Linked DNA regions of Homo sapiens. The protein of the gene in region 1 interacts with the protein of each later gene in a pairwise test. Each region holds a gene or a part of one and is shown in the gene's direction. Other genes may lie near its edges.

What was found.
Region 2: the proteins of ACOT8 (region 1) and DHRS4 come close enough for resonance energy transfer, tested with the Homo sapiens proteins (one large-scale study listed by BioGRID).
Region 3: the proteins of ACOT8 (region 1) and CFTR interact in binary tests that used the Homo sapiens proteins (3 or more experiments, as listed by UniProt).
Region 4: the proteins of ACOT8 (region 1) and PEX5 interact in binary tests that used the Homo sapiens proteins (3 or more experiments, as listed by UniProt).
Region 5: the proteins of ACOT8 (region 1) and REL interact in binary tests that used the Homo sapiens proteins (3 or more experiments, as listed by UniProt).
Region 6: the proteins of ACOT8 (region 1) and PRDM16 interact in a two-hybrid assay, tested with the Homo sapiens proteins (one large-scale study listed by BioGRID).
Region 7: the proteins of ACOT8 (region 1) and HAO1 come close enough for resonance energy transfer, tested with the Homo sapiens proteins (one large-scale study listed by BioGRID).

Annotation. Positions count from the first base shown.
Region 1 is NC_000020.11:45,850,258-45,854,824, reverse strand, and holds part of ACOT8 (acyl-coenzyme A thioesterase 8), read left to right. Parts: intron 1-871; exon of another isoform or gene 872-902; intron 903-4,567. UniProt on the Homo sapiens protein: Catalyzes the hydrolysis of acyl-CoAs into free fatty acids and coenzyme A (CoASH), regulating their respective intracellular levels. Displays no strong substrate specificity with respect to the carboxylic acid moiety of Acyl-CoAs.
Region 2 is NC_000014.9:23,959,978-23,964,544, forward strand, and holds part of DHRS4 (dehydrogenase/reductase SDR family member 4), read left to right. Parts: coding exon 1-26; intron 27-4,567. UniProt on the Homo sapiens protein: NADPH-dependent oxidoreductase which catalyzes the reduction of a variety of compounds bearing carbonyl groups including ketosteroids, alpha-dicarbonyl compounds, aldehydes, aromatic ketones and quinones.
Region 3 is NC_000007.14:117,590,938-117,595,504, forward strand, and holds part of CFTR (cystic fibrosis transmembrane conductance regulator), read left to right. Parts: intron 1-996; coding exon 997-1,720; intron 1,721-3,992; coding exon 3,993-4,121; intron 4,122-4,567. UniProt on the Homo sapiens protein: Epithelial ion channel that plays an important role in the regulation of epithelial ion and water transport and fluid homeostasis. Mediates the transport of chloride ions across the cell membrane.
Region 4 is NC_000012.12:7,202,602-7,207,168, forward strand, and holds part of PEX5 (peroxisomal biogenesis factor 5), read left to right. Parts: intron 1-10; coding exon 11-103; intron 104-830; coding exon 831-950; intron 951-4,567.
Region 5 is NC_000002.12:60,887,620-60,892,186, forward strand, and holds part of REL (proto-oncogene c-Rel), read left to right. Parts: intron 1-4,063; coding exon 4,064-4,206; intron 4,207-4,567. UniProt on the Homo sapiens protein: Proto-oncogene that may play a role in differentiation and lymphopoiesis.
Region 6 is NC_000001.11:3,428,485-3,433,051, forward strand, and holds part of PRDM16 (histone-lysine N-methyltransferase PRDM16), read left to right. Parts: intron 1-2,387; coding exon 2,388-2,624; intron 2,625-3,481; coding exon 3,482-3,656; intron 3,657-4,567. UniProt on the Homo sapiens protein: Binds DNA and functions as a transcriptional regulator. Displays histone methyltransferase activity and monomethylates 'Lys-9' of histone H3 (H3K9me1) in vitro.
Region 7 is NC_000020.11:7,901,885-7,906,451, reverse strand, and holds part of HAO1 (2-Hydroxyacid oxidase 1), read left to right. Parts: intron 1-122; coding exon 123-298; intron 299-4,567. UniProt on the Homo sapiens protein: Broad substrate specificity (S)-2-hydroxy-acid oxidase that preferentially oxidizes glycolate.

The DNA of each region.
Region 1 (4,567 bases):
ACCTCTGTGCTAGAGGTGTGGAGGTAGGGCAGCTTGGGTTGGAGAAGAGAGCACCAGCCTGAGAGTCAAGGGATCTAAGGCTTCTTTTGTCAACTGAGCATAGGGTCAATAAAAACAAACCAAAGATGTAGGGCCTAGCTTCAGTTTTGTCCATAATTTACCATGCAGCCTTGTGAGGTTACCTCCCCGCCCTACAGTTTGGTTTACTTCAGCTGTAAAATGGAGAAGGGTGGGACCAAGGGTATTTTAGTGGGATGATCTCTACAGCTTCTTACAGCTCTGGGGTCAGATAATGTAACTTAAAACCTATGTGTGAGGCCGGGCGCGGTGGCTCACGCCTGTAATCCCAGCACTTTGGAGGCCAAGGCGGGCGGATCACGAGGTCAGGAGATCGGGACCATCCTAGCTAACACGGTGAAACCCCGTCTCTACTAAAAATATAAAAAAATTAGCCAGGTGTGGTGGTGGGTGCCTGTAGTCCCAGCTACTCGGGAGGCTGAGGCAGGAGAATGGTGTGAACCCGGAAGGCGGAGCTTGCAGTGAGCCAAGATCGTGCCACTGCACTCCAGCCTGGGCGAGCACTCCAGCCTGGGCAACAGAGCGAGACTCTGTCTCAAAAACAAAAAACCTATGTGTGGTGGCTCATGCCTATAATCCCCGCACATTGGGAGGCCAATGCGGAGAATTGTTGGAACCCAGGAATTCAAGACCAGCCAGGGCAATAAATCGAGACCTTGTCTCTACAAAAAAATAAATAAAAGGAAAATAAAAGCAAAACCTATGCTAAAAAACAAACAAAAAAAACCCTCACTGTTTTCTTTCCTTCCCTGTTACCCCCAGAGCAGATGCCCTCATGTGTTCTGCGTAGATCCCCAGCTGAGAAGAGTTTGTGGACCTTTACAGTATGTGATTTGTATTAAGAAAACCATGGGGTTTCCCCCTTCATTTTGTAAATATGAAAGTTATCCCTGTAATGGTAAATACACTTTTTCATACTGTCCCGTGTCTCTTACTCCTCATCCCTGAGGAGTATTGATTGGCCCCCCTCTTCTCGGCCCCCAGTCACTGCTATAAAGTATTTGAATACTTACCTTGGGCTCAGCCAGGTTCTTATCTTTATGCTAGTTGGGAGTAAATATGTGCTTTGTTTCTTTAATTTGTTTGTAAGTACCAGCCTTTTGATATTGTAATCCTTCCAGCCTAGTGAAATACCTGGCTGTTTTCTTTTGTGTGGGTGGGGGCATTACTTGAACTCTGAATCTCTTCATCCTGTGATGGAAGAATTCAATGAGTCTTTGCCAGTAAAGTATCTAGTGCAGGGCTTGGCATAATCTAGTTTTCCATAAATATTATTAGTTTTTGATGATTAACTTATGGGAATAATTAAAATTTGCATGATACAGAGCATAGTTGTGTGCATTATCTTGTTTAGTCTTCATAAGTAAACATGGGTGGCAGGCATTCCTGCCATCATTCTTACCTAAGGAAACTGGGACCTGAAGAGGTTTGGAACCAGCTCCCACAGTGCCCAAGGAGGCAGAGCCAGGATTTGAACCTGGTTTATGTGTCTTTGAGTGCCAAACTCTTTCCTGCTTCTTTGCTTCGCTCTTGGGCAATAATTCTAAACAATGAGAGAGCTGCCAGGGTACCCATCCCAGGTTCTGGGGAAAAGATCCTCTTTCTTGGAAAGTCTTCATCCAGGAGCAGCGTGAAATGAGCTGTGTCCAAGCCACCATTTCAAAATAAATAATTATTTGGCCGGGCGTGGTGGCTCATGCCTGTAATCCTAGCACTTTGGGAAGCCGAGGCGGGCGGATCACCTGAGCTCAGGAGTTCGAGACCAGCCTGGGCAACATGGTGAAACCCAGTCTCTACTAAAATACTAAAAATTAGCCAGGCATGGCGGCATGTGCCTGTAGTCCCAGCTACTCAGGAGGCTGAGGTAGGAGAATTGCTTGAACTCAGGAGGCGGAGGTTGCAGTGAGCTGAGATCATGCTACTGTACTCCAGCCTGGGCGACAGAGCGAGACTCTTGTCTCCATCAAAAATAAATAAATAAATAAAAATAATTATTTGTGCCCTTGCTTGTGTCTTGAAAGGCTGCAAGATAGCTAAAATAATTGGTAGTTATTATGGGAATATTAAAAGTCAAAGGACATTAGGCCAGTAGTAATGGGATTTGGGAGAAGCGATCATGTCAAAAAATTTGGCTAAGCCATATTGTTGCAGTTTCATACAAGGTTTAGTTCTGAGCTTCCTGGCTGCAAGGCAAAAAGGGGAGAGCTCTTATCTGTTTGTGGTGTGACTCTGCCAGCTATATCAGATATTAAAACCAATGCTGTTTTTTGGCTGGGCATGTGGCTTATGCCTGTAATCCCAGGACTTTGGGAGGCCGAGGCGGGCAGATCGGCTGAGGTCAAGAGTTCGAGACCAGCCTGGACAATGTGGCGAAACTCCATCTCTACTAAAAAAAAAAAACACACACAAAAATTAGCCAGGTGTGGTGGTGCACACCTGTAGTCCTAGCTACTCAGGAGGCTGAGTCAGGAGAATCGCTTGAACCCTGGAGGTGGAGGTTGCAGTGAGCTGAGATCGTGCTACTGTACTCCAGCCTGGGTGACAGAGCAAGACTCCATCTAAAAAAAAAAAGGAAAATTAGCTGGGCGTGGTGACCTTAGCCCGTGATCCCAGCTACTCGGGAGGCTGAGGCTGAGGCTGAGGCAAGGAGAATTGCTTGAACCCGGCGGCTGGAGGTCGCAGTGAGCTAAAACTGCGCCACTGCACTCCCACCTGGGCGACAGATCGAGACTCCATCTCAAAAAAACAAAACAAAAAAGAGATGTTTCAATTACATTTTAAAAATAAAAGATGTTATGGGGGAGGGGGAGGGTTGGTCCTTGGCCATTTATCAAATCAGTTCTTTTTCTAAAAGCCCAGGAAAGAATGTGAATTAGTTGGGTTTTTGTTTTGTTTTTAGTTTTTCTCTACAGAGGTAAATTTAGAGCTTGAAGAATTCAGAACAAGGTCAGCAAACATTCTAGAAAGGGCCAGATAGTAAACATTTTAGGTTTTGCCAGTGAAAGCAACTATAGACAATATGTAAACAAATTAGCATGACTTTATTACAAAAAAATTGTATTTTAAGGCAACAGTTTCCTCATCTGTACAATGGGGGTAAGAGTGGCTCTACATAGTTATTGTGAGACCAACATGAGAAAACATACCCTCCTGTCCAATGCTGTCAGGCACCCTGCATCACTCCATAATCATTAACTCCCTTCAATATGCCTCAGGGCCTACCTGCTCTGTTCCAATAACAATTTTCAAGAATAGGGCTGGAACTCATTCACACTGAAAGGTAGACCAGAGTACTGAAGTTTCTGTGATCCTCCTCAGGAATCTGCACTTTAGCTTACCTGCAGACCAAGGATTGGATTAGAGGTTTTTTTTTGTTTTTTCCCCCCAAGTTTGGTGGTAGGGAGGAAGACTTCATTCCCAGTGTCTGAAAGCAGACTGCACAAGTAACTTTGTCTAGTGTCTGGACTCTTGGTAAGCCCTTCTCAAATGCCTTTAACCTTGAGGAGCTCGCACTCTGATAGAAGTGCTGCTGGTGGCAGTGCCTGATAACAGAGAGCTGAGCAAGCCAGTTGACCTCAGACAGTGATGTTTATTGCTGTTGATTGAGCCCTGGTGCCTGGTTGACTCCCCATTTGGATCAGAGTGAAGGAAGCAACACTTCTCTAGACCTGCTTCTTTCATCTGAAGGTTGAAAGTCATCCCCAAGATGTCTCATGGCCCAGATGTCAGGGTTCCTCAAGGTCAGCCTGACTCAGACAAAGTGAGAACTTCAGGGAAACCAGGGAAGTTCTCTTCCTCTCCAAATCTTCCCTCACCTGCTTGTTGTTGGCTGCCTTATCCCTGGCCAGTGCCTTCTACTCTGGTGGTGGTGGTCTTGTTGTTTTTGAGACAAGGTCTTGCTCTGTCACCTAGGCTGGAGCACAGTGACGCAGTCATGGCTCACTGCAGCCTTGATCTCCTGGCCTCAAGTGATCCTTCCGCCTCAGCCTCTTGATTAGCTGGGACTATAGGCACATGCCACCATGTCCAGCTAATTTTTATTTTTTATTTTTTGTAGAAACAGGGTCTCCCTGTGTTGCCTAGGCTCTTCCACTCTGCTTTGGAGCAGAGACACCTGACAGTGAAGGACCAAATGGCTTCCATATACATCAGGGGTGAAGTGACTGACAGTGGCCCTTGCCTGGGAGAGGCTGAATATACAAACAGACAATGGCTAGACCATGTAGAAAAACAGAACTCTGACGCACAATAGCAGCAACCAGCACAGGAAGCCAGCCTACTATCCACAAGTCAGACTTGTAGGAAGTCAGACCACTATCTTTACCAACCAGTCCAGCAAGCCAAATAATGACCACTGTAACAATTGGCCTCCAAAGCCAGGACTTGATTAATAACTGATAGCTGCCCTAATTTTTGCCCCTGCTTCCAACTTAGGACCAACCGGAGAAAGCCAAATATGTACTCCTAACCAATCACATAGGATGTCCCA
Region 2 (4,567 bases), on another chromosome or scaffold:
ATGTCACTGAGGAGGTGTGGGACAAGGTGAGAGGGGATTAAAGCAGGGGGGCCGGGGGGGGCGCCTTGGAACACATTCAGCACAAACTCCATCTGCTTTTAGAATGCATTTCTCAAGGGCAGTGTAAATGTGAGGACTCTTTGCCACGTGCCACACACCTGGAGCACACCTTGCAAAGGGCGGGTGGGGGTGGCTCTATCCCTGCCCTTCTCATTCGTTTCTGCTACTCCTAGTTCTCTCTGCTTCTATCTGCTCTTCACTAGCCACAGTCTGCTCCTCTCCCCAGGCTTTTTCCCTGGCATGCTCTTCTGCCTTGTTGATTTCCAACAGAGACGTAGGCAGCTAATATGCCAACAACTACAACACTTAATTTACACACCCACCTGTCCCCTTTTCAGCTGACAAAAAGTAATTATTTTTTACGAGTTGGGAAATATTAAATGCTGCTCCTTATTTAAAATACTAATTCTGGTGAAATGACCAGTTGCCACTTTATAACATACATCCTTTAAAAAAATAAAATAAAAACCTATATTATTTTCTTCTTAACTGCAATGTCAAGAAAATCTGAGATCCAGATGTCTAAATTCAAGTGGTAGAATATTGGGTTTTATGTGAAAGTGTATAATTACATTATATTCGTAATATATTTCACACACACTCTTTAATTACAAAGCTTTAATTAAAATATTTGTCTTTGTTTATTAAGGTTAATATTCCCACATGATTGGGAAATGCTAATTTTTATGATCTCCCATGGTTCTGCGTTTTACACTGATGTTGTATTAGTCTGTTTTGCATTGCTATAAAGGAATATCTGAGCTGGGCAATTTATAAAGAAAAGAAGTTTGTTTTGGCTTACGATACTGCAGACTGTACAAGAAGCATGGTGCCAGTATCTGCTTCTGATGAGGCCTCAGGAAGCTTACAATCATGGCAGAAGGAAAAAGGGAGCAAGTGTGTCACATGGCAAGACAGGAAGCAAGAGAGAGATACCAGTCTCTTTTAAACAACTAGTTCTGGCATGAAGTAATAGAGTGAGAACTCACTCACTGCCACAGGGAGGGCACCAAGCCATTCATAAGGGATCCACCCTCATGACCCAAACACCTCACACCAGGCCCCACCTGGAACACTGGTGATCACATTTCAACATGGGACTTAGAGGGGACAAACTTACCAACTATATCAGATGTCATCAAAATTTCTCAACACTAAAGTATCAGGTTGCCAAAATACTATGATTTATTTACCAGTGTTTCATACACATAAAGACCAAACTGCCAAAATGTTCTTCAGTGAGCTAGTTTTTGATTCTAGTTTGAGCTAGTTTGAGAGAAGGCTGGGCAACACAGCGAGACCTTTTCTCTATATTAAAAACAACAACAACAACAATGACAACAAAACCTTCCTTCTTAGGAACTATCATCAAAATAACTTCTCTTTCTTAAACCGTCTTTTCTTCAAAACTACCCAGAGATTTGCTGCTAACCATTTAAGTTTGGCTTCTTTCTTTCTTTTTTTAGACAGACTCTTGCTCTGTCTTTTTTCCTTTTTTTTTTTTTTTCCCTCGCTGTGTCATTGAGGCTAGAGGGCTGTGGTGTGATCTCAGCTCACTGCAACCTCAGCCTCCCAGGTTCAAGCGATTCTTGTGCCTCAGCCTCCCAAGTACCTGGGACTACAGGCATGTGCCATCATGCCTGGCTAATTTTTTGTATTGAGATGCGGTTTCACTGTGTTGCTCAGGCTGGTCTCAAATTCCTGGCCTCAACTGATCCCCACACCTCAGCCCCCCAAAATATTGGGATTGCAGGCATGAGCCACCACACACAGCCAGATTCTGATAGTCTTTAAAATAGAGGAGCATCATTCATGAACAGTCTGAATAGAGACCATATGAAAGTCAGTTTTAAACTAAGTACAGGCACGCCTCAGAGATATTGTGGGTCTGGTTCCAGGCCACCACACAATAAAGTGAATATTATAATAAAGTGAGTCACATGAATTTTTTGGTTTCCCAGTGCATATAAAAGTTAGGTTTACATTATAATGATCATCTAATGGAAGTCTATTAACTGAGCAATAGCATTATGTTTTAAAATATATATACGTATCTTAATTTTAAAATACTTTATTGCTAAAAAAATGCTGACAATCATCTGAGCCTTTACAACTTGTAATCTTTTTGCTGGTGGAGGATCTTGCCTCAACATTGATGGTGGCTGACTTAGGGTGGTGTTGCTGAAGGCTGGGGTGGCTGTGGCAGTTTTTTCAAATAAGACAGCAGTGAAGTTTGCCACATCAGTTGACTCTTCCTTTCACAAGAGATTTCTCTGTAGCATGCAATCCTGTTTGATAGCATTTACCCACAGTAGAACTTCTTTCAAAATTGGAGTCAATCCTATCAAACTCTACCACTGCTTACTCTACTAAGTACCTATAATATTCTGAATCCCGTGTTGTGATTTCAACAATATTCATGGCATCTTCACCAGAAATAGATTCCATCCCAAGAAACCACTTTCTTTGCTTATCCGTAAGAACCAGCTCCTCAGCCATCTACATTTTATCGTGAGATTGTAGCAATTCAGTCCCATCTTCCAGCTCCGCTTCTAGTTCTCTTGCTATTTCCACCACATCTGCAGTTCCTTCCTCTGATGCAGTCTTGAACCCTTCCACGTCATCCATGAGGGTTGGAATCAACTTCTTCCAGACTCCTGTTAATGTAGATATTTTGACCTCCTCCCATGAATCACAAATATTCTTAATGGCATCTAAAATGGTGCATCCTTTACAGAAGGTTTTCAGTTAACTTTGCCGAGATCCATCAGAGGAATCACTATCCATGGCAGCTATAGCCTTACAAAATGTATTTCTTAAATAATAAGTCTTGGAAGTCAGAATTACCCCCGATCCATGGGCTGCAGAATGGATGTTGTGTTAGCAGGCATGAAAACAACATTAATCTCCTTGTACATCTCCATCAGAGCTTTTGAGTGACCAGGTGCATTGTCAATGAGCAGTAACAGTTTGAAAGGAATCTTTTTCTGAGCAGTAGCTATCAACGGTGAGCTTAAAATATTCAGTAAACCATGCTATAAACAGATGTGCTGTTATTCAGGCTTTGTTGTTCCATTTGCAGAGCACAGGCAGAGTAGATTTAGCGTAAATCTGAGGGCCCTAGAATTTTCAGAATGGTAAATGAGCATTGGCTTCAACTTAAAGTCACTGGCTGCATTAGCCCCTAACAAGAGAATAAGCCTGTCCTTTGAAGTTTTGAAGCCAGGCATTGACTTCTCCTCTCTAGCTATTAAAGCCCTACATGGCATCTTCTTCCACTAGAAGGTTGTTTCATCTACATTGAAAATCTGTTGTTTGCTGTAGCCACCTTCATCAATGATCTTAGCTAGATCTTCTGGATAACTGGCTGCAGCTTCTACATCAGCACTCGCTGCTTCATCTTGCACTTTTATGTTACAGAGGTGGCTTCTTAAACCTCATGAACCAACCACTGCTAGCTTCCAACTTTTCCGGAGCTTCTTCACCTCTCTCAGCCTTCAAAGAATTAAAAATTAGGGCCTTTTACTGATTAGGCTTTGGCTTAAGGGAATGTTGTGGCTAGTTTGATCTTCTGTCCAGAACATAAGAACTTTCTCTCCATATTAACAATAAACCTCTTTTGCTTTCTTATCATTTATATGTTCAGAGAAGTAGCACTTTTAATTTCCTTCAAGAATTTTTCCTTTGCATTCACAATTTGGCTAACTGGTGCACATGGTCTAACTTTCAGCCTGCCTCAGCTTTCAACATGCCTTCCTCACTAAGCTTAATTGTTTCTAGCTTTTGATTTAAAGTGAAAGATGTGTGACTCTTCCTTTTGCTTAAACACTTACAAGCCATTGTAGGGTTAATAGTTGGCCTAATTTCAATGTAAATGTGTCTCAGGGAATATGGAGGCCCACAGAGAGGGAGAGAGATGAGAGAAGGGCAGAGCAGTCAGAACACACAACATTTTTCGATTAAGTTGACCTTCTTTTCTGGGTGTGGTTTGTGGTACCCCAAAACAATTATAATAAAACCATGAAAGATCACTCATCACAGATCACCGTAACAGATACAATAATAATGGAAAGGTCTGAAATATTCCAAGAATTACCAAAATGTGACCCAGAGACAAAGTGAGCACATGCAATTGGAAAAATGGCTCGAATTAATGCAGGGTTGCCACGAAACTGCAATTTGTAAAAAAAAAAAAAAAAAAAAAAAAAAAAAAAAAACACAATATCTGCAAAGCATAAGAAAATATGTGTCTATAACTTTTCTTTTAATTTGTATATTTTTTAAACTATCACAGTATGACAAATCCAAACATAATGGCTGATCCTTGATTGAACTCTGGACTTTAAAAAACACACACACACATTTGGGGGATAATTGAGGCCAATATGTTAGATAAAATTATCATCATTGTCAAACTCTTGGTTGTGATAACAGATTATGGTTGTGTAAAAGAAAATCCTTACTCTTTGGAAATGTATGCTAAGTATTTGGGGATAGAACATTGTAC
Region 3 (4,567 bases), on another chromosome or scaffold:
CCTTGGAACTCCTGTTAGGGTCCAATGTACATGAAATTCCCTAGACAGACAGACAGTCAGTTATATGGCTTGATTTCAAAGTTTCAAAATGATTTAATGGACTATCAAGTAGTTTATTAGGAGAACAGTTATTATACTCTTCTAAAAATAAAGACTTTAAGCAATAAAGATGTATATGTATATAAAATGGCTGGGTTATTCCTAGAAGTACCTTTCTTAGAATTTAGTTAAATTTAATATCCAAGATACTATCTTTTCAACCCTGAGATTGTGAAAAGTAACTTCTATCAATATAAACTTTACTACATTTGTATTGTGTTAGTGTGTTACAGTATAATCTAGAACAATGTGTCTTTCTATATGATATATGACATTTTAATGCCTAAAAAAACTGATATGTCTTAGATGATTCTAGTCAGGATTTACTTCTAGAATAGATTAAAATTCTATTTGAGGAGAGTCAAATTAATTATCGAATTCTCAGTTGTTATTATTGCTGTTTTATTTTTAGTGAAACAGATTAGTCTTAATGTAAACACTTGAGAAATAAATTGATGGTCAACCTAAAATGTAAAAAAGAAATTAATAGAAAATTTAAAGAGCAACAAAGCTCTGACATTTAAAAGAAATGAAGTACAAATCTCTAGGGACCTTAAAGATCATCTAATAATTTCCTCATTTTCTAGATAAATAAACTGAGAGACCCCGAGGATAAATGATTTGCTCAAAGTCAAATATCTACTTAATATAGGAAATTTAATTTCATTCTCAGTCTGTTAACATGCAACTTTTCAATATAGCATGTTATTTCATGCTATCAGAATTCACAAGGTACCAATTTAATTACTACAGAGTACTTATAGAATCATTTAAAATATAATAAAATTGTATGATAGAGATTATATGCAATAAAACATTAACAAAATGCTAAAATACGAGACATATTGCAATAAAGTATTTATAAAATTGATATTTATATGTTTTTATATCTTAAAGCTGTGTCTGTAAACTGATGGCTAACAAAACTAGGATTTTGGTCACTTCTAAAATGGAACATTTAAAGAAAGCTGACAAAATATTAATTTTGCATGAAGGTAGCAGCTATTTTTATGGGACATTTTCAGAACTCCAAAATCTACAGCCAGACTTTAGCTCAAAACTCATGGGATGTGATTCTTTCGACCAATTTAGTGCAGAAAGAAGAAATTCAATCCTAACTGAGACCTTACACCGTTTCTCATTAGAAGGAGATGCTCCTGTCTCCTGGACAGAAACAAAAAAACAATCTTTTAAACAGACTGGAGAGTTTGGGGAAAAAAGGAAGAATTCTATTCTCAATCCAATCAACTCTATACGAAAATTTTCCATTGTGCAAAAGACTCCCTTACAAATGAATGGCATCGAAGAGGATTCTGATGAGCCTTTAGAGAGAAGGCTGTCCTTAGTACCAGATTCTGAGCAGGGAGAGGCGATACTGCCTCGCATCAGCGTGATCAGCACTGGCCCCACGCTTCAGGCACGAAGGAGGCAGTCTGTCCTGAACCTGATGACACACTCAGTTAACCAAGGTCAGAACATTCACCGAAAGACAACAGCATCCACACGAAAAGTGTCACTGGCCCCTCAGGCAAACTTGACTGAACTGGATATATATTCAAGAAGGTTATCTCAAGAAACTGGCTTGGAAATAAGTGAAGAAATTAACGAAGAAGACTTAAAGGTAGGTATACATCGCTTGGGGGTATTTCACCCCACAGAATGCAATTGAGTAGAATGCAATATGTAGCATGTAACAAAATTTACTAAAATCATAGGATTAGGATAAGGTGTATCTTAAAACTCAGAAAGTATGAAGTTCATTAATTATACAAGCAACGTTAAAATGTAAAATAACAAATGATTTCTTTTTGCAATGGACATATCTCTTCCCATAAAATGGGAAAGGATTTAGTTTTTGGTCCTCTACTAAGCCAGTGATAACTGTGACTATAAGTTAGAAAGCATTTGCTTTATTACCATCTTGAACCCTCTGTGGGAAGAGGTGCAGTATAAATAACTGTATAAATAAATAGTAGCTTTCATTATTTATAGCTCGCAAAATAATCTGTATGGAAGTAGCATATATAAGGTATATAAACATTTAGCCTCTTGATAGGACTAACTCACATTCTGGTTTGTATATCAGTCTTGCCTGAATTTAGCTAGTGTGGGCTTTTTTTTATCTTGTGAGTTTGCTTTATACATTGGGTTTCTGAAAAGATTTCTTTTAGAGAATGTATATAAGCTTAACATGTACTAGTGCCAATCTTCAGACAGAAATTTTGTTCTATTAGGTTTTAAGAATAAAAGCATTTTATTTTTAAAACAGGAAATAATATAAAAAGGAGAGTTTTTGTTGTTTTAGTAGAAAACTTAATGCCTTGGATGAAATGAGCCATGGGCAGGGTTGTAATGAATTGATATGTTTAATAGTATAGATCATTTGTGAATAATATGACCTTTGACAAGACACAAGCCATTAACATCTGTAGGCAGAAGTTTCCTTCTTTGTAAAATGAGGGAATAAAATAGATCCCTAAAGTGTGTAATTTTAGTATTTCTAAACTTTATGAAGGTTTCCTAAATGATAATTCATCTATATAGTGTTTTTTTGTGTGTTTGTTTGTTTGTTTGTTTGAGATGGAGTCTCGCTCTGTCACCTAGGCTGGAGTGCAATGGTGCAACCTCGGCTCACTGCAACCTCTGCCTCCTGGGTTCAAGCTAATCTCCTGCCTCAGCCTCCTGAGTAGCTGAGATTACAGGCATGCACCACCATGCCGAGCTAATTTTTGTATTTTTAGTAGAGAAGGGGTTTCATCATGTTGACCAGGCTGGTCTTGAACTCCTGACCTTGTGATCCACCCACCTCAGCCTCCCAAAGTGCTGGTATTACAGGCGTGTGCCACCACGTCCAGCCTGAGCCACTGCGCCCAGCCCATCTATATAGTTTAATATCAATCTAAATGAATTTCTCAGTCCTGAGCCTAAAAATTTAGTTGTAAAGAATGATATCCTTGACTAATAATAGTTTCTATTAATGGATTGCATCTAGTGCTAGGTGGCATATATTTAGTCCCCACAACTACCCTGGAAGGTATTTAAAATTTTTCACATTTGCAGATAAGGAAACTAAAGTTCAGAGTTCGGCAACATGCTTGAATTCAAGCAGCTCCTAGGATGTTAATGGTGGAGGTTGGGTTCAAATCCAGATCTGTCTGACTCAAAAAATGCATACTCCTAACCAGTGCACTATATCCCAATTCCATAGGAGCCCTTCTTTGTGATTCATAGCACTTTCCCATGAGTTTTGTTGATTTTGTGAGAAACAAAACTCTTTTTCCTTTGGACTGTCTGGAATCTCTCTTTTTCAAATTTTTGAAATGTATTTCTATGCCAAAAGACAAAGATTTCTAGAGGAATATGCCTAGGATGAGAATTATGTAATTTAAATCACAGCTGGAAAGAGAGAAAGTCCTAAGTTACTAAGAAATGTTCAAACACAAATGAGCTTTCAGTCTATTGGAAGACCTTTATAGCTAGAAGTATACTGAACTGTACTTGTCCATGGACCCCTGAAGAAACAGGTTAAATCAAAGAGAGTTCTGGGAAACTTCATTTAGATGGTATCATTCATTTGATAAAAGGTATGCCACTGTTAAGCCTTTAATGGTAAAATTGTCCAATAATAATACAGTTATATAATCAGTGATACATTTTTAGAATTTTGAAAAATTACGATGTTTCTCATTTTTAATAAAGCTGTGTTGCTCCAGTAGACATTATTCTGGCTATAGAATGACATCATACATGGCATTTATAATGATTTATATTTGTTAAAATACACTTAGATTCAAGTAATACTATTCTTTTATTTTCATATATTAAAAATAAAACCACAATGGTGGCATGAAACTGTACTGTCTTATTGTAATAGCCATAATTCTTTTATTCAGGAGTGCTTTTTTGATGATATGGAGAGCATACCAGCAGTGACTACATGGAACACATACCTTCGATATATTACTGTCCACAAGAGCTTAATTTTTGTGCTAATTTGGTGCTTAGTAATTTTTCTGGCAGAGGTAAGAATGTTCTATTGTAAAGTATTACTGGATTTAAAGTTAAATTAAGATAGTTTGGGGATGTATACATATATATGCACACACATAAATATGTATATATACACATGTATACATGTATAAGTATGCATATATACACACATATATCACTATATGTATATATGTATATATTACATATATTTGTGATTTTACAGTATATAATGGTATAGATTCATATAGTTCTTAGCTTCTGAAAAATCAACAAGTAGAACCACTACTGATATTTTATTATTTCATATTACATATAAAATATATTTAAATACAAATATAAGAAGAGTTTTTAATAGATTTTTAATAATAAAGGTTAAGAGATTCGAAAGCTCAAAGTAGAAGGCTTTTATTTGGATTGAAATTAAACAATTAGAATCACTGTTGATATTTTATTATTTCATATTACATATAAAATATAT
Region 4 (4,567 bases), on another chromosome or scaffold:
TTTGTCGCAGGGTACATCAGATGCCTGGGTTGACCAGTTCACAAGACCAGTAAACACATCTGCCCTTGATATGGAGTTTGAACGAGCCAAGTCAGCTATAGAGGTGAGAGCAGATAGTGCAGGAGCAGACACCCCAAAAGAAAACACTCCTTGGAGTGAGTGGGTGTATGAACATCAAAGATGATGCAAATTGTATTTCATAGTGGACCTGGATCATCTGTGTCAGAGTTGCTTGGGGATGGGGTGGGTGCTGTTGAAAAATGCAGATTTCTGGGCCAGGCATGGTGGCTCATGCCTGTAATCTCAGCACTTTGGGAGCCCGAGGTGGGTGGATCACCTGAGGTTAGGAGTTCGAGACCAGTCTGAACAACATGGAGAAACCCCATGTCTCTACTAAAAATACAAAATTAGCGTGGTGTGTTGGCGCATGCCTGTAATCCCAGCTACTTGGGAGGCTGAGGCAGGAGAAATGTTTGAAACTGGGAGGTGGAGGTTGCAACGAGATGAGATCACGCCATTGCACTCTAGCCTGGGCAACGAGAGTGAAACTCTGTCTCAAACAAAAAACTAAACTAAACTATGCACTGCACTGCACTGCACTGCACTGCACTGCACTGCACTACATTACATTTCTGGCCATCACCCCAGACTACTAAATCAGTATCTGGGGATAGCATCTGGCCATTTGCATTTTAAAAAACTTATTCAGATGATTCTTAAACATATTGAAATTCAAGAACTGCTGCCTTAGAGAATCCCAGCAGAGCTGAGTGTGGGGTGGGGTGGTCATGATGGATCTCCTTTTTCTATCTGCTTTCCCTTCCTTACAGTCTGATGTCGATTTCTGGGACAAGTTGCAGGCAGAGTTGGAGGAGATGGCAAAACGGGATGCTGAGGCCCACCCCTGGCTTTCTGACTATGATGACCTTACGTCAGCTACCTATGATAAGGTGAGGTAAAAACTCTTAGTTTTTCAGGTTCCAGAACTTCCTTCTTTTTAACGTCTTTCCTTTAATCCTGAATTTGAAGGGTGCTTTTAAGTATTTTCTTGAGTCCCTTTCCACGAAAAGAAGTCTGAATAATTCCCTTGCCCTTCCTCTTCAGTGATTGAGTATAAACTTTATTCTTGGGATATAGATGTTAATGAGACTATCTTTGTCAATAACGACAGTCCAGTACATAACACCTGTGAAGGAGGTTTGCACATGCTTGCTGCATTAAAAGCACAGAGGAAGTAGCTCTGCTTGGAGGTCAGATTGGGAGCTTTTTGAGAAGACTGCTGACTCCTTTGGTGGGGAGTGTTAGTGGACAGACTATCCCTTTGCCTCCACATCTTAATATCTGTTTACTTTTTAAACTCACATATTCATTTTAAGTTCTTATCTTTTATAGGTAGTAGCCACTTGCCCTAATTTAGGGTTTTCAAAGAATTTATATTAGATAACTTAAATATTAGGGAAATTTCTTAGTAGTATGAAAGATGATTGCATTTTGCCTATAGCATGTGCTGTTGACTTAGAAGCATATGTTACTTCTGGGGTCTTACTGAAAAACAAATCTACCTGTGGGTTGTAGGATATTTGGGGATGTGTTTAATAACTGAGCTCCTGAGTTGAAACATGAAGAGGGGAAAGAATCACTTGGTTTTGAAAAAAGGCAAAACAGGAACTGGGGATGTGAGTAGTGATGTCTTTTTCTCAGTTCAGATCTGGTTGGGAAAGTATTGTGGGGCTGGAACCAGGGCCTGAGATGCAAACCAGGGTGCTGGAGATGGATCTTGATGTAATAAGGGAGCTATGCAAAGATGGGAAGATGCAGTTCAGAAAAAGGCTAGAGTTTGAGAGCCAGTGAAGAACAGTATTAGGAAAAATATGATTTTGCTTATTATTCCAGTCTGATCTGGATTTTTCTAACTATCCTGTGTGATATAAGGGAAAAGACAGCTGGGACCTTGCCATGTATTTCACTAGACTATGAGTTCATTGTATATAATTTTGATAAGGAAGAACTGAAGGAAATATAGATAACACTTTTGTTATTATTTTGTATTAACAATTTGATAAGTCACATAGGCCCCATCAACTTATAAATGGAAAGTTGTACATTTATGTAAAAATGTCCATGCTTTTCATACATATAGACATAATACTAGTTTTGTATGAGCAGCATTTTCTTTTATCATTTATTACTCTCGTATTTATGACATGCTGGCCAGAATACATTTTTTTTTTTCAGACACATAGAACAATGTGACAAATTAGAAAGCAAATTTTTTTTTAGAAAAAAAATCACATTTGATCAGGTTCCAAGAATAGAAATGTGGAAAGGATAGTCTTTTCGATAAATGGTATTGGAGAAACTGCATATCCATGTGCAAAAGAGTGAAACTGAACCGTTACCTCACACTATGTACAAAACTTAATCCAAAATGGCTTAAAGACCCAAATGCAGTACCCAAAACCGTAAAATGCCTAGAAGAAAACATAGGGAGAAAGTTTCTTGACATTAGTCTTTGCAATGATTTTTGGGATATGAGCTTTTGGTGTCATATCCAGAATACATTTTTTAATTAAAAACTTTAAAAGTATGTTTGTAGATTCTTGAGCCCTACTTGATATCATTGATACTTTGGGATATTGCAAAATTAGGACTAGAAATACTTGCATTAATGTTCCTCAAAAAGTGATGTAGTAAGCAATTAGACAGTATCTGGCTTTAAGCTAATATTGAATTCCATGTCAATAGAACTTTTTAAAAACAAAGGACTTGACTCTTGATTGTTACATAAATTCATGGATCTCTTTGAATGCACTGTTTGTTTATTGATAGCCCTTATATTTTCAGAGACAATTTACATTGCAGCTCAGGCAGATATTAATATACTATTATGATAAAAGAGAAGTATGTGATGGGACAAACTCTTTGTAGTGATCATTTCTGCAGTTTGATCCTATGAGATTTTGGAGCAGACCAGACCGTGTATCAGATAAAATTAATGACTTGGGTTTGGCTTTTCAGGATGTAACAGTGAAGCCAAGCTTATCCTGTGTTCTGTGGGTTGTTGAGGGATCCCCCAGAGTACTCTTTTTCCATCATCTATGCAAATATTCTAATTTTGGAAAATTCCTCTTTGATCAGCAATTGATGAGACTTCAAGGAGGGTAGATAATATGGATGAGAGGAAACTTAGAGAATCCTGTGGTTGCAAGATGGTGGCATTGAGTTGTTGTATTATCTAATGAAGACACCTGAAGAGCATTCGCATCACTTCTGGCTGTCATATACAGGCCATCATATCTTAAGGAAGTATCTAGAGCAGTGAGGATAATAGCTATTTACAGATAGTATCTTAAGCTTTTTGGTAAGGCGTTGGTGAAGATTCCCATTTGATGTTCTCAATGGCTCTGAGAGGCAGGAATTACTTTTATTAGGAAACTGCATTATAGATGACAGTAATCTCTGTTTTCTGTAGAGTGGCTTAAAACACGTATTAATGATGAACAATAGTTGAGGTTGAATGCAGAAGGATTTATTTTATTGAACTGTAATAGTCTAGGGCAAGGGCCAGCACACTGGCTTGTGGGATAAATCTTTATGTTTTTAGTGATCCACTAGCTGAGGATGGTTTTAACATTTTTAAATGGTTGGAGAAAATCAAAAGAGTAATACTTTGTGACAAGTGAAAATTATATAAAATTCAAATTTTAGTGTCCATAAATAAAATGTTATTGGAAGACAGCCGTGCTCATTTGTTTACTTATGTCTGGCTGCTTTCGCACTACAACAGTAGAGGTGAGTAGTTGCAGCAGATCCACGAAGCCTGAAATATTTATTATCTGGCCCTTCGCAGAAAAAGTTTGCTGATCACTGGACTAGCGTCATTTTCTGCCTTCTTAGTTTTTATATTATGCAGAGATGTCCAAAAACACACTTGTTTTCAATATAAATATACTTTCTATACATTTATCTCAAATCTACTATAATATGTCTTTCTTCTTAAACCCCCCATTGTAATTATTTAATTTTCATTTGTGACAAATAATTTGCATCTGATCATGACTTAGAATTTTGCTGGTAAGATTTAAGTGTTTTTGATTCTTTATCATTTTCACAATAATAATGAAAAAGGGCCTCATGTCTTTATTTTGTACAGTTTTATCTGAATTTATTCTTAACTGCATTTAGAAAGACCTCCACCTGTTGTTTTGCATCTTGTTTTCGTTCTGGTGTATTATTTTATGATGGTAACTACTCTCCAAAAACGGACTTTTTATTTGCATGTCCCAGATTTTGCAGCTTACTAGTGACTTCCCCTTTACCTCATTTCTTCTCTGCCTAGTGTAAAATGCCAGTTGACAAAGCTTTGCAGATAGTATCGTAACTCTTCTCTAAAGTGAGAAATCCTCAGCTGGAAGAGAATGGTGTCTTTCTGAAGTATTCTCTGCCATCTGGATTTTGGGATCCAGCTTTTGCTTACTGTCAGATACAGATTAATATTCATGATTATTAAGAATGAAATCGGGGAATAAATTAACATTTTCAAAATGCTTGAAAATGTTTTATCTAG
Region 5 (4,567 bases), on another chromosome or scaffold:
AAGGAGGGGAGATTATTTCCAGCTGGGGGAATGTAGAGTATTACAGTATACTGTGTTACTTGGTTGTAATACTCTACATTCCCCCAGCTTGTTAATTTTTACCAATTAAGAGCTTCTGCAGTAGGAAAAATAAATTCCAAGGACTTTAAATACTCAATATTATATGATAACTGATATTTATGTAATTTTTACTATTTAAAAATATTTAATCTTTTCAACAACTACTTTTCTGTTCTTTTTGTAAACAATCTAAAGAAGTGTCATGTAACCAATGAAGTTTTGGGTTTTTTTGTTGTTGTTTTTGTGTTTTGTTTGTTTTTTTTTTTGAGACGGAGTCTCACTCTGTCACCCAGGCTAGAGTGCAGTGGTACAATCTTGGCTCACTGCAGCCTCCACCTCCTGGGTTCAAGCAATTCTCTTGCCTCAGTCTCCCAAGTAGCTGGGATTACAGGTGCCTGCCACCACATCCCGCTAATTTTTTGTATTTTTAGTAGAGATGGGGTTTCACCATGTTTTCCAGGCTGGTCTGGAACTCCTGACCTCAAGTGATCCACCCACTTTGGCCTCCCAAAGTGCTGGGATTACAGGTATGAGCCACCATGCCCAGCCTCAGTGAAATATTTGAATGCTCACTATGAACCTAGCAGTTTTATTCACACTCTCTCTTCCCAAAGTTAAACACTTATCATTAACGATGTCATTTTATATCAGTTTCCCACCAAGACACCTTTAAATAAGTAGTGGGCAGGGATTTATTTGGCCTTTACTTCAGCCACATAAATTATTTAAAATGTGACTTAAAAAGTAATGTTGATTTTAACAGTTTTTAAGAGGAAAATATACTTTCTTAAATACTCCTACAAGGATATATAAGGGTATGAAATATTTGAAATTGCAATGTGAATTTGAAATCTTTAAAATATGCAAGGATAAAATCGTGAAATACTCATCTGCATATCTTATGTTTTTGAGTAAAACTGAAATAAGGATTATGAACTTGTTTAGGTTAAAGTCAGTTTTCTCTGGCTCTTCATCTTCTGAATAAACAAATAGGTAGTAGATTCAAACACAGGGAGTTTACACCATACAGAATAAAATTGAAAGTTACAGTAATACTTTATTCAGTAACCCAAAGTAGAAGCCATGGAATCATCAATGATTCTTTAATTTCTGAGCTATCAGTGATTCTTTAATTTCTCTTAACCCTACTGTTCAGGCACCAGGTGCTGTCAATTTTATCTTTTAAATAATCCTTCATTCATCTTATCACTGCCATATATCAGAGATACCCTCATCATTGCCCACATTATTATAGTGGTCTCTAAACTGATGACATTGCTTTCTTTTTTCTATCTGTTCACTGTGACTAAAACTTTTACTCTAAAATGCAAATCTGATCATGTGATTTGCCTGCATCAAAATATTCATTGATTTCATCACACATAAAATGAAATCCACATTGCCAAGTGTGCTCTGACTTTTAGTTCTCTTTTTAAGAGAGAAAGTGTGTTCCATTTACATTGGTGATTCTTAAATAAACCCTCCTCTGTGGACACACTGTTCCCTTTTCCCTAGAATACCTACCTTTTTCCTCTTCATTTCCTCCGCTCTTTTGCTTCATTAACCGCTCTTTTTCCACTGACACAGTTGGGCATTCCTGACTCTTTCGCTCTTATTTCCGCAGAATTTTGTTAGTGCTTTCCTTCCTTCTGTAGTCTAATAATATATGTTGTTTGCCTTGCTCTTCTATAAGGTCCTTTAGAGTGACAGTTGGGATACCACCATAGTATCACTAAATCATTGTTTTCAAGAAAGCATCTGAAATAATAGACACCATTTTTTTTTATTTTTTATTTTTTTACACTTTAAGTTTTAGGGTACATGTACACATCGTGCGGCTTTGTTACATATGTATACATGTGCCATGTTGGTGTGCTGCACCCATTAACTTGTCATTTAACATTAGGTATATCTCCTAATGCTTTCCCTCCCCCCTTCCCCCACCCCACAACAGGCCCTGGTGTGTGATGTTCCCCTTCCTGTGTCCATGTGTTCTCATTGATCAATTCCCACCCATGAGTGAGAACATGCGGTGTTTGGTTTTTTTGTCCTCACGATAGTTTCCAGCTTCATCTATGTCCCTACAAAGGACATGAGCTTATCCTTTTTTATGGCTGCATAGTATTCCATGGTGTATATGTGCCACATTTTCTTAATCCAGTCTATCATTGTTGGACATTTGGGTTGGTTCCAAGTCTTTGCTATTGTGAAGAGTGCCGCAATAAACATACTTGTGCATGTGTCTTTATAGCAGCATGATTTATAATCTTTTGGGTATATACCCAGTAATGGGATGGCTGGGTAAAATGGTATTTCTAGTTCTAGATCCCTGAGGAATCGCCACACTGACTTCCACAATGGTTGAACTAGCTTACAGTCCCACCAACTGTGTAAAAGTGTTCCTATTTCTTCACATCCTCTCCAGCACCTGTTGTTTCCTGACTTTTTAATGATCGCCATTCTAACTGGTGTAAGATGGTATCTCATTGTGGTTTTGATTTGCATTTCTCTGATGGCCAGTGATGATGAGCATTTTTTCACGTAGACAACATTTATTGAATGTGTATGTATATATGACACTTCGTAAGAATTTAGCACATATAATCTGTCATCTTCACAACAACCCAATGAGGTAGGTGCTATTATGATTATTCCTATTTTACAGAGGAGGAAACTAAGAGATTTTTAATTTTAATCACATTTCCTTGGTCTTACTGTTAAGAAGTAGCTGGGGTAGGATTCTAAAGGCCTCTTCTCCATACTGTTCTGATAAGGCCCACTGTGTTACCATTTCTCAGGATTGCTTGCGTTCTAACAGGATAAGCCTTAGTCAGCACTAAAGTGATTAAGGGACACATTATTATTATTTTTTAATGGAAAACATCTTCACACCCCTATTAACTCCCCTACTTGCAAGTACAGTTGAGTGTCTATTTACCTTTTCCCCCACAATTTGGATAATAAAAGTAAAGTTGCATACATTTTAAATAGCTTTATTGACATATAATTTATGTACAACAAACTGTACTTTTAAAGTATGCAATTTGACAAGTTTTGACATATGTATACAACCCTGGAATCATCATCACAAGATAATGTCCCCCCTGCCTTTCCTATCCACCATATATCCCTGTTCTTAGGCAACCAGTGATCTGCTATCGTTCATTGTATATTACTTTACATATCCTAGGGTTTCATATAAATGGAATCATACAGTATGTGCTCTTCTGGTCTAACTTCTTTCACTCAGCATAATCATTTTGAGAGTCGTCCATGTTATTATATGTAGCAGCAGTTCATTCTGCAGATGCATATTTTGAATTTTAGTTATTATAGAAAGTGAATACTTTTTTTTCTCTATTATGTCTTTAGAAAAGGTTTGCATGGGACTGATTGCACATTCTTTGAGCCTAAAGTCCCTCCTGGGGCTTGTTTTGATATACTGTGTGTAAGTCCTTTAATATTTGAATGGAGATATAAAAAACTTACATATGCTTCTGCAAGGATTTAAATGCATTTTCATTTTCAGTGAATGGTCTTTTCATTCAGTATTATGAATATGATGTAAAATCAAGCAGTTAAATATATTTAACTCACTTTAGGAGTGTGATATTTTACTTCTGAATACTGCCTTCTTTACCCTTCTTGGGGAATCTTGGGGGAAACCCTTCTGCTAGGTCTCACGTGGGAGGCAGATATCTCTGAAGTGGTTATCTCAGAACTTCATATTGACGTTAGCTATAGATATTAAGCTATAAAGTGCTAACCAGTCAATATGGTTTGAATGACTTGTTTTGACACTACATAGGGACTCAATTTGAATGGGAAAAAAAGGTGCCTCTCCCAGCCAATCTCCAAGATAACATTTCGGTCTTGTTATTTAATGTTAGGAGGAAAAAAATCTTTGTTTTAGTCTGCTGTTATAAAAAAAACAGAATGTTAAAATCCATTATTAATTGCTATATTAATCTCACTGACCTCCTCCTTTTTAAAAACTTTTCAGGTGCGTATAACCCGTATATAGAGATAATTGAACAACCCAGGCAGAGGGGAATGCGTTTTAGATACAAATGTGAAGGGCGATCAGCAGGCAGCATTCCAGGGGAGCACAGCACAGACAACAACCGAACATACCCTTCTATCCAGGTAATAGACCCTTCTTCTGTGTCTATCTCACTATTAGTTGCTTCATATACTAGCTATAGCAATTATTTTAAAGGGCCAGTTTCTTCACAGTCATCTCCACAGGTTTATCTTTTTCTTTTTTCCTTTTTTTTTTTAAACGGATCTGTCAAAAAGACATCTATTAGATAGATGTCTAAGGACATTTCTTAAATATAAAATGGAGTCTTCCCCACTGCAGATAGTTCTATGGTGCTTGTGTATTAACCTAAGTAGAGCGACTCAATGTTGAGAGTACACTGGCAACTTTTGGATCATGTTCTTTTTCATGGAACACAGAGATAATAAGGAAAACCCATTCTCTGCAGAGGTGAGTGATATTATT
Region 6 (4,567 bases), on another chromosome or scaffold:
CAGACGGACTCAGACTCAGGCCCTCGGAAGACCCGTCCTGCTGAGGCAAGGTCCCCGGGTCCAGCTGGCCTGGTCCTGAGAGCCCCTGCGTCACTGACGAAAATGAGAACAGGGCAAGGTGGACATAGGCAGCCAGTCCCTGGGGTGGCGGGAACGTTCCCTGGGCCTCCTGCAGAACCAGCTCCTGCCCTCCGCCATCAGGAAGGATCCAGTTCTGTCAGGAGTCCTGGTCCTGCAGCCCCGTGAACCCCTGAGTTGAATCATGTCCCTCAGCATTCCCAGGTGGAAGTCCCAGCCCCCGGTACCTCAGAATGGGACTCTCTTAGGAGATAAGGTCTTTAAGGAGGGATTAAGCAGAGGCCACACTGGGTAGAGTGGGCCCCAATCCAGCGGCACTGACGGCCTCTTAAAAAGGGGGCACTTGGAGAAAATCACGCAGGGGAGAAGGCCAAGGGAAAATGGAGACAGAGGTCAGGGTGATGCGCCTCCCAGCCAAGGGTCACCTAAGAGGGACAAAGGTCACCAAGGATGGCCAAGGAGGGCCAAGGGTCACATAGGAGGGCCGAAGAGTGCCAAGGTTTGCCAAGGATGGCCAAAGAGGGCCGGCAGCAGCGGGAGCTGGAGAGAGACCAGGGACAGATTCTCCCCCAGAGTCTTGGAAGGAACCCGGCCTGCCCTCGCCTGGATCTTGGACTTCTGGCCTCAGAGCTGTGAAAGCGTCCACGGCTGTTGCTTCAGGCCCCCATTCTGTGGGGCTTGGTTTGGGCAGCTCTGGGAAACTGACTGTCCTCCCTGTTGGAGCCAAACCAGCCACTGGGCCCTATTCTGTGTCCGTGCCGGATGCTCCGCTCCCCAACACTAAAAAGCAAATACTCTGTGCATGGGGGGTGTGCAGCAGACATAAAGAGGGCAAAGTCCCTGCCCCCAGCTGGTGGGAAGCCCATGCAAACCCACGTGGGGCCACCAGATGAGATCTCACAGCACATGCCCATGTGATGAGCCTGGGCTCTCACCCTGCGCCATCTCATCCCGTCCTCAGAGTGGACAGGGAGGGGTATGTCCTCGTGTCATCGAGAGGGCACAGGCCCCAAAGACAGAACCCCACCCGAGGGCACCTCACCAACAACCAGGGTGAGAACCAGGACCCGGATCCCAGCAGCTCCGTGGCTGAGGAGATGGGTGTGTGTACAGGACGCTCTTGGCCCCCAACACAGGCGACCAGGACCGAGGAACTCTCCTCAAGCCCTGAAACCTGGTGAGGTTCTGTCCGTCCTGGAAGGCAGAAAGACAAGAGATAGACACGTGGCCCATCTGTGGAGAGCCAGGAAATTGTGGCCTCCCCAAGCCCAGTTCCCGTGCACACAGGCGAGTCCGAGACACGGAGGTCGGTCGCCGTGAGACGCTGTCACTTTCTTGCTTGGATGCCAAGAGCAGGACCCCTGCATCTCACCCACACCGTGGATACCTCCCAGGGCAGCGGGAGGCAGTGCCCCCGGGCGGAGTGAGGACAAGGAAGAGTGGCCCTGGGGCTCTGGGCATGGGCAGTCCAGAAACTGCGTGCCCTGCCCTTTGCTTGGGCCCCTCTACCAGTATGTCCAGCATGTGCCCGGGGGCCCTCAGCTCCCCTGGGGCCCAGCCCACCCAAGACACAGCTCTTGGTCGTGAACATGAAGATGAGCCAAACTCTAGTGGCTCTTCCTGAAAGAAATGAGAATGCCCAGCCACACCCATGCACGCTTTGTTCTTTTTTATTTAATACTGAGGAACCGGAGTGGAGGGGTCCTGCCGGGCTGCAGTGACCCTGAGGGAAGTCAGGAGAGCCCTGGGCTGCAGAAGAGTCCCCCCACAGGCTCCGAAGCAAGCTTGTCCTGGTGCATTCAGACTGCTCACAGCAGGCTTTGGGCCCTCACTCTCCAGATCCCAGAGAGCCCTCCAGGGCTCCCGGCTCTCGGGCCAGTGCCCACGTCCTCGAGTTGTCAGCCTGAATTCCTTCCCCCTGAAGTCTGCCCTGAGGGTGCCCCTCGTGCACTGCCCAACCCCCGTGCCAGTGCAGGTCCAGCTTCCCCACAGGACTGCCCACTGCTTCCACCCCAACACCGCCCCGGCCCTGGTGTCCTCCCGGCCATAGCAGCTTGCTGCTGGGCCTTGCCCTGCCCCCACCGCCCCGAGCGCTTGCCCTCCTCTCCCGGGATCGCCCCCAGGCCTCCGTGCCTCTCACTCTGCAGAGTCAGTGGCTGGGCCCAGGGACCCGCGGGAGCTCCCTCAGGAAGGGGGCTGAGTGTTGTCGGGGGAGGCAGTGGGGGCAGAGCGGAGTCACCAGCCTTTGGGGGTCCATGGGAAGGACAGAGACACCCAAACTCAGTCAATCTCCTCCTGCATCATTTCAGGGCGGACATGCAGATCGTGGACGGCAGTGCCCAGTGTCCAGGCCTAGCCAGTGAGAAGCAGGAGGACGTGGAGGAGGAGGACGACGATGACCTGGAGGAGGACGATGAGGACAGCCTGGCCGGGAAGTCGCAGGATGACACCGTGTCCCCCGCACCCGAGCCCCAGGCCGCCTACGAGGATGAGGAGGATGAGGAGCCAGCCGCCTCCCTGGCCGTGGGCTTTGACCACACCCGAAGGTGGGGGCAGCCGTGTGCTCCAGGATGGGGCAGGGAGGGAACGTGGGCGTCCATCACGAGGGGGACCTCCCTCTTCAGCCACTCGTGAGCCCATCCCTGGCTCAGCCCCTACTCCAGCACAGCCACCTCAGGGCCTCCACACACAGGCCAGGGCAAGGCTGGGCCAGGGGCAACGGGGTCAGGGGCCCTTAACCCCCCCACCCACCCCCAGGGGCCCTGGAGGCTGGAAGCAGAGTGTGGAGGGGAAGGCATTTCCCTGCACTGAGCAGACATGGAGGCCCCCGGCCCTGCAGCAGAGCTGCCTGTCAGCCTGGGACAGCGCGTGCAGCCACTAGAGGGCCGTGGGCACACGGGGGCCAAGCACCCACCATTCTGTGCCGGCCAGGGCCACTTCCCCATGTCCTCAGTGTTCGCCACCAATATCGGGCCTGGGCGACACTGCCAGCATTCCCAGATGCCCTTGGGGAGGCCCTTCGGAGGTGGCACTTCCTCTCCAGCCTGGATGCTGCCCCTGAGTCCTGGGAGAGGGAGCCCCGGGCCTCTCTGAGCTGCCTGGGGTCTTAGAGAATTGAAGCCTTCTTCTCCACCCTCCACTGGCAAGACCTGAGCCCCCTGCCTGCTGCCTGATGCGTGTGCACGCACTCACCCCCTCCCTGACCTCTGTCCGTCACTCTCCTGCATCCGTGTGCCTTCCCGTCCAGGCGTCTGTGTGTCCGTGTGTCTGTCTCCCTGTGCATGTGGCTGGCAGAGATGCAGCGGCGTGCATGCAGGCCCGGAGCTGGGCTTGCAGCATCAGAGAGGCGGCCAAGGCCAGGCTGCTGACAGCAGGCCTTCCCTCTCCCCGGTCATTGGTGCAGGTGTGCTGAGGACCACGAAGGCGGTCTGTTAGCTTTGGAGCCGATGCCGACTTTTGGGAAGGGGCTGGACCTCCGCAGAGCAGCTGAGGAAGCATTTGAAGTTAAAGATGTGCTTAATTCCACCTTAGATTCTGAGGCTTTAAAACATACACTGTGCAGGCAGGCTAAGAACCAGGTAGGTACCCGCCAGAGCCCCTCCCCCACCCCACCTGGCCTCCTCAGCCAGAGGACAGCCAGCACTCCTCTCCCGCCGTGGCCCTCCTAGGCCTGAGGAAGCTCTGGTCACGCAAACGCCCCCACGCTGCATCCTCCAGAGAGGCCCCAGCGACCACCGCCCTCCCGCAAGCTGGGGCGCAGCAGGGAGGGGCTGAGAGCCGATGACCCTGGCAGGACCCTCACGAGGGAGCTCACTCATGGACACGGGCAGCTCACCTTCCTGTGGTCCTCAGTGGGAAAGGTCTGTGAGCAGGTTTCTGGCCCGCCCAGCCGCCTTCGTCTCCCTCCCTCTCTGATCTGGGCCCCAGTGGCCTGCAGCCCGGGCTTTTCCCGGGGGAAGAGCTGTCCAGCCGGGCAGTCTCTGCTTCCCAGCTGGAGCAATGAGGTCAGCGAGGGTGCCAGGGTTTTGGCCCCAGGCGCTTCTCGGCTTCTCTCCTCAGGGTAGGTGGCCCCAGGGCCCTGCTCCCGCATTTCTCTCCAGTCTGTAGGGACTCAGGGTCTCATTCAGCACTCTACAGCCCTCCCAGAGGGAACAGGCCCGCCCCAGGTCTCAGCAAAAGCCGTCTGCGTGTCTGTCTTTGTCTTTTTACTAATTCTGTCTGGAGTGTTAACTCGGGTAGGACAGTGCTGGGCTTCCCCACCTTCCCTGCCCTTAACCCACACACGATGCTCCCCAGGTCCCATCCCCACCTGCCCTGTGCTGGGGGCAGAAGGATGTCCCATGAACTAACGCCTGGAAACACATCTGTACTTCCTAAGAATCCCATTGGCCCAGAAACGCTGCACATCCCTGTCCCAGAGGCAGCTCTTTGGTGTCCCCACGGTCACCAAAACAGACATCCCCTGGCAGGGGTGGCTCTTGTTGACCCC
Region 7 (4,567 bases), about 38 Mb from region 1:
ATAGATAAATGAGCAGTGAACAGCCAATTGATTTGAAAAGGGTAACATTTTTCATTGAATGAATCATTGGAAACGTATTTCTAATTTGGCAAATTTCTCATTTTATGCATTTCTTATTTTAGGATGAAAAATTTTGAAACCAGTACTTTATCATTTTCTCCTGAGGAAAATTTTGGAGACGACAGTGGACTTGCTGCATATGTGGCTAAAGCAATAGACCCATCTATCAGCTGGGAAGATATCAAATGGCTGAGAAGACTGACATCATTGCCAATTGTTGCAAAGGGCATTTTGAGAGGTTCGTTTATTTCTCTACTTGAATTCATACTGACTTTGTGATCCTTTGTGGATACGTTCATAATATTCTTAAAGGAAAATAACAAGGAAAAATTAACATGGAAATTGAGAGAGACATTCCAACTCTCAATTCTCTGTTTTCATGTTAGTGAGTAAATATTTCTTCATTCTTAGGTAATATTCTGAAGCAGAGCTAAACTCTCATGAAGCACAAAGTGAGCTTTTTCAAAGAATTGGGATGCTATTGCCTTATTTCAGAGCTGTTACTGAATCATGAAGCCTGGCAAGATCTTGGTAGAACGTCATGAGTTCATTGCTTTACCTGAAAGCTGCAACAGTTGCTCTCAGACCAAAGAGAAGCCCCAAGGAGATATTATGACAGACAGACTTGTTTTAAGAGCTTTTACTCTTTTTCTTGTGCTCCCTCCAGTACAAATGGCTAGGACTAGTTTTTGAGTGTGGTCAAACCCACATCACCTCTCTGAAGAGAATGGCTGACTAGTATGGTCAAATGCTCAATTATCAAGCCATGGGTAATAAGAAACTTAACTATTTCCTCCAGCATCCCCATGTATTCAGATCCCACAGGGAGATACCAATGACTATAATAATTTTGGAGTGTAAATGTGTTTACCCACAAAGGCAAGAAAACCTTTGTGGTATATAACCTTTGGTTATATAGATAACTGCCAAAAACTTTTTTTTAACTGAAATGTTTGAGTAAGTGACTTTAAGATGAGAGTCTGTCCATTAATGTATGTCTATTAAATGACTTTGAATCAAAACTTTTTCATAGATTTTACTTGAACATGTCTGAGTCATGTGGTCCCTATTTATAAAGGTCTACCTACTTTGACTATTTAATTTTATGTGTGAAGAAATGAGCTTATAAAAGTAAAAGAAATTAAGCCCAGTGCAGCATTTAAGTAGTGGAGATATGTTTAAATCCAGATGTTCTTATTCTGTGCTTAAACAAATTAAATTAGTTTTTTAAATCGATATATAATAGTTGTACATATGCATAGAGCATATAGTGATGTTTCAATACCTACAATGTGTAGTAATCATATGAGGGTAATTAGCATATCCGTCATCTCAAACATTATTCTGTACTTCTACAAAAATTGTTCACTGTTTCCTACTAATCATTGTCCTAGTTCAAAATTTTTGTGGATTATACTTCAATGAATATGTATTGGTTTGGTTTACAGACACCTTTAAATAATGGTTTCACTTCCTTTACTTGCATCCATGTTGTTATCCATGATTACTAGTGCTACTTACTGTGGCTGCATTCAACTGTGGGGACTAAATAATATTAACCTGAAGGTTCTGTGCCATTCATTTATTTATTCATTCATCCATTCTCTTATTCACTCACTCATTCATTCCATAAATATCATAACTACTGTGTGCTAAAATATTTTTATGAAATAAAATAATTTTAGATCCTTGGATAAAATGACAGTCTATTCTTGTAGGAGACAGTTATATAAACAAGCATTTTGGGTGCAATAAAATGTTGCATAGAAATCTATGGGCATGGCTTAAAAAAGAATATGGGCAATAATGTAAGAGTGGGTTAGAAAACACTTTTCAGAATGAAAGATGATGCTTGAGTTTTGCCATGATATCAAGCCAATAGACTCTACTTCAGACTGAAGTACTGGCAGAATAAAGCAATTATGCATAACAATTTATAAAACACATAAGCCATTTAGAGAATTTAGACTTTAAAGTGGCTGAGAACCACTGAAGTGTCTTGATCAGAGAAGCAACCTCATCATATAAGCATTTTACAGAAATCATGCTTTGCACAACGGACCTAATGGATGGAGGTGGCAAAATTGTGGTCAGGGAAGACATTTAGGAAATGTTGTTGCCCAGAAAAGAGATAATTGTAGAGATGACCTAGAGTAATGGCAGGGAGGGGACTGAGAAGGTATAATTAAATTAGAAAATTAAGACAGTTAATCACAGAGACGGCCCAGGGGATCTGGCTTTAAAACACTAAGGAAGAATAGAATTTTAGTCTTGTTCCATAATTGTTTCAAATAAGGAACAAAGAAGGAGGTCATTTTATTTTTTAACCACCTTTTCAATCTAGGATTTCCAGTGTATATCATTTTCTACAACTTTATTCCTTAAGATATGTGCAAATCAATTGAATTAGATTTACTATCACATGTTATGTTGAAAAATATTTTGGTTTCTAGATCTTCATTCTGTTATCACTTTAGCTAGGACCACTGCCACCACCACCACCACCACCACCACCACCACCACCACCACCACCGCTACCACAATCTCCATTACCAGGACAACCACCAGCACTGCTGCCACCCACCACCACTGCTATCACCATCACCACTCCCATCACCATTATCACCACTCCCATTACCACCATGACCACCACCACCACCACAACTACCACCATAGCCACAACCTCCATCAACACCACCATTACCAGGAACAACCACCACCACTGCCACCACCACCACTGCTATCATCACCACCACCATCACCACTCCCATCACCACTATGACCACCACCACCACCAGCGCCATAACCACAACCACCATCAACACCACCATTACCAAGACAACCACCACCACCTCCACCACCACCACCAGTATCACCACTACCACCTCCACCACTCCTATCACCACCATGACCACCATGACCACCACTACCACCATCATCACCACCTCTCTTTTCTTCTCATCCATATGGATTTCTGGTTTGTTTCTAAATATTTTTGTGACATTTTACACATAGTAGATAGCCCAAATATTTATTTACTGAACTTCTTGATGAAAACTATAAGTCTATCTAATTAGAGAAAGCTCAAAAAAAAAAAAAAAGATAAGGAGAGATGGGACATTTGACATTTAAAGGGAAATAACTTATTTATACATGTACAGTTTACATCGTCTACTTTTCTGTAACTATTTGGTTCTTTTATTTAACAAACAAGAATCATCTCTATGACAACAATTGCACCAAGTAACACATATGCTCAATCTGGATCGGAAGGGAGCAGTGGCAGGGCCAGTTCTGGGAAATCCAATTTTCTCCATTTCACAGGTCCTCATGCAGAAATCACATGGATTGACTGAGAGTCACCCATCCTCTTTCATTTTCCTTTTTCAGAAAAGTGCAGATTATATTTTCAGGAACATGAAATCATGAGCAACTGTGAAGATCTAGACCAAACATCTGACTGTCTCACCATTTTAATAATTGTATTTTAATGAATGCAAATTAGAATGGAAGATGTAATCTCTTACTGTGTGTGGTTAAACTGCCCTTAGAGAACTTCAACGCAAGCTCCTAACATGTACTTAAGACAGAATTTGGTCTTTGTCAGAACTCACACTAGCAAACAAATGGCTTTTTTCAGCAAAGGCATGGTGCCTTTTAGAGTTCTTTTCTTTTTCTTTTAATTTATTTAAATTAGGCTGTCTCACTTCTACTGTGGCTTTGTGTTTCTGAGAAACTTTTCTCTAGTCAGCTCTTCATATACAGGCATACCTAAGAGACATTGTGGATTCAGTTCTGGACCACCACAATAAAGCAAGTCACATAATTTTTTTGTCTTCCCAGTGCATATGAAAGTTATGTTTTTGCTATACTGTAGTCTATTTTGTGCAACAGCATTATGCCTAAAAAACAATGTATATACCTTAATTAAAAAATACGTTACTCCTAAAAAATGCTAATGATCACCTGAGTCTTCAGCGAGTTGTAGTCTTTTTGCTGGTGGAGGGTCTTTCCTAGGTGTTGATGGTTGCTGACTGATCAGGGTAGTGGTTGCTGAAGGTTTAAGGTGGCTGTGGTAACTTCTTAAAATAAGACAATGAAGTTTGATGCATCGATTAACTTTTCCTTTCAGGAAAGATTTCTCTGTACCATGAGAAGCTATTTGATAGCATTTTACCCACAGTACAACTTTTTCAACATTGGAGTCAGTCCTCTCAAACTGCCACTGCTTTATCTGTGAAGTTTGTGTAATATTCTAAATCCTTTGTTGTTATTTCAGCAATGTTCACAGCATCTTCACCAGGAGTTGATTCCATCCCAAGAAACCACTTTCTTTGCTCATCATAAGAAGAAACTCTTCATTCATTTAAGTTTTATCTCATGATTGCAGCAATTTAGTCACAGCTTCAGGCTCCACATCTAATTCGGTTATCTTACTGTTTCTGCCACAGCAGCAGTGACTTTCTCCACCATAGTCTTCAACTCCTCAAAGTCATCCATGAGGGTT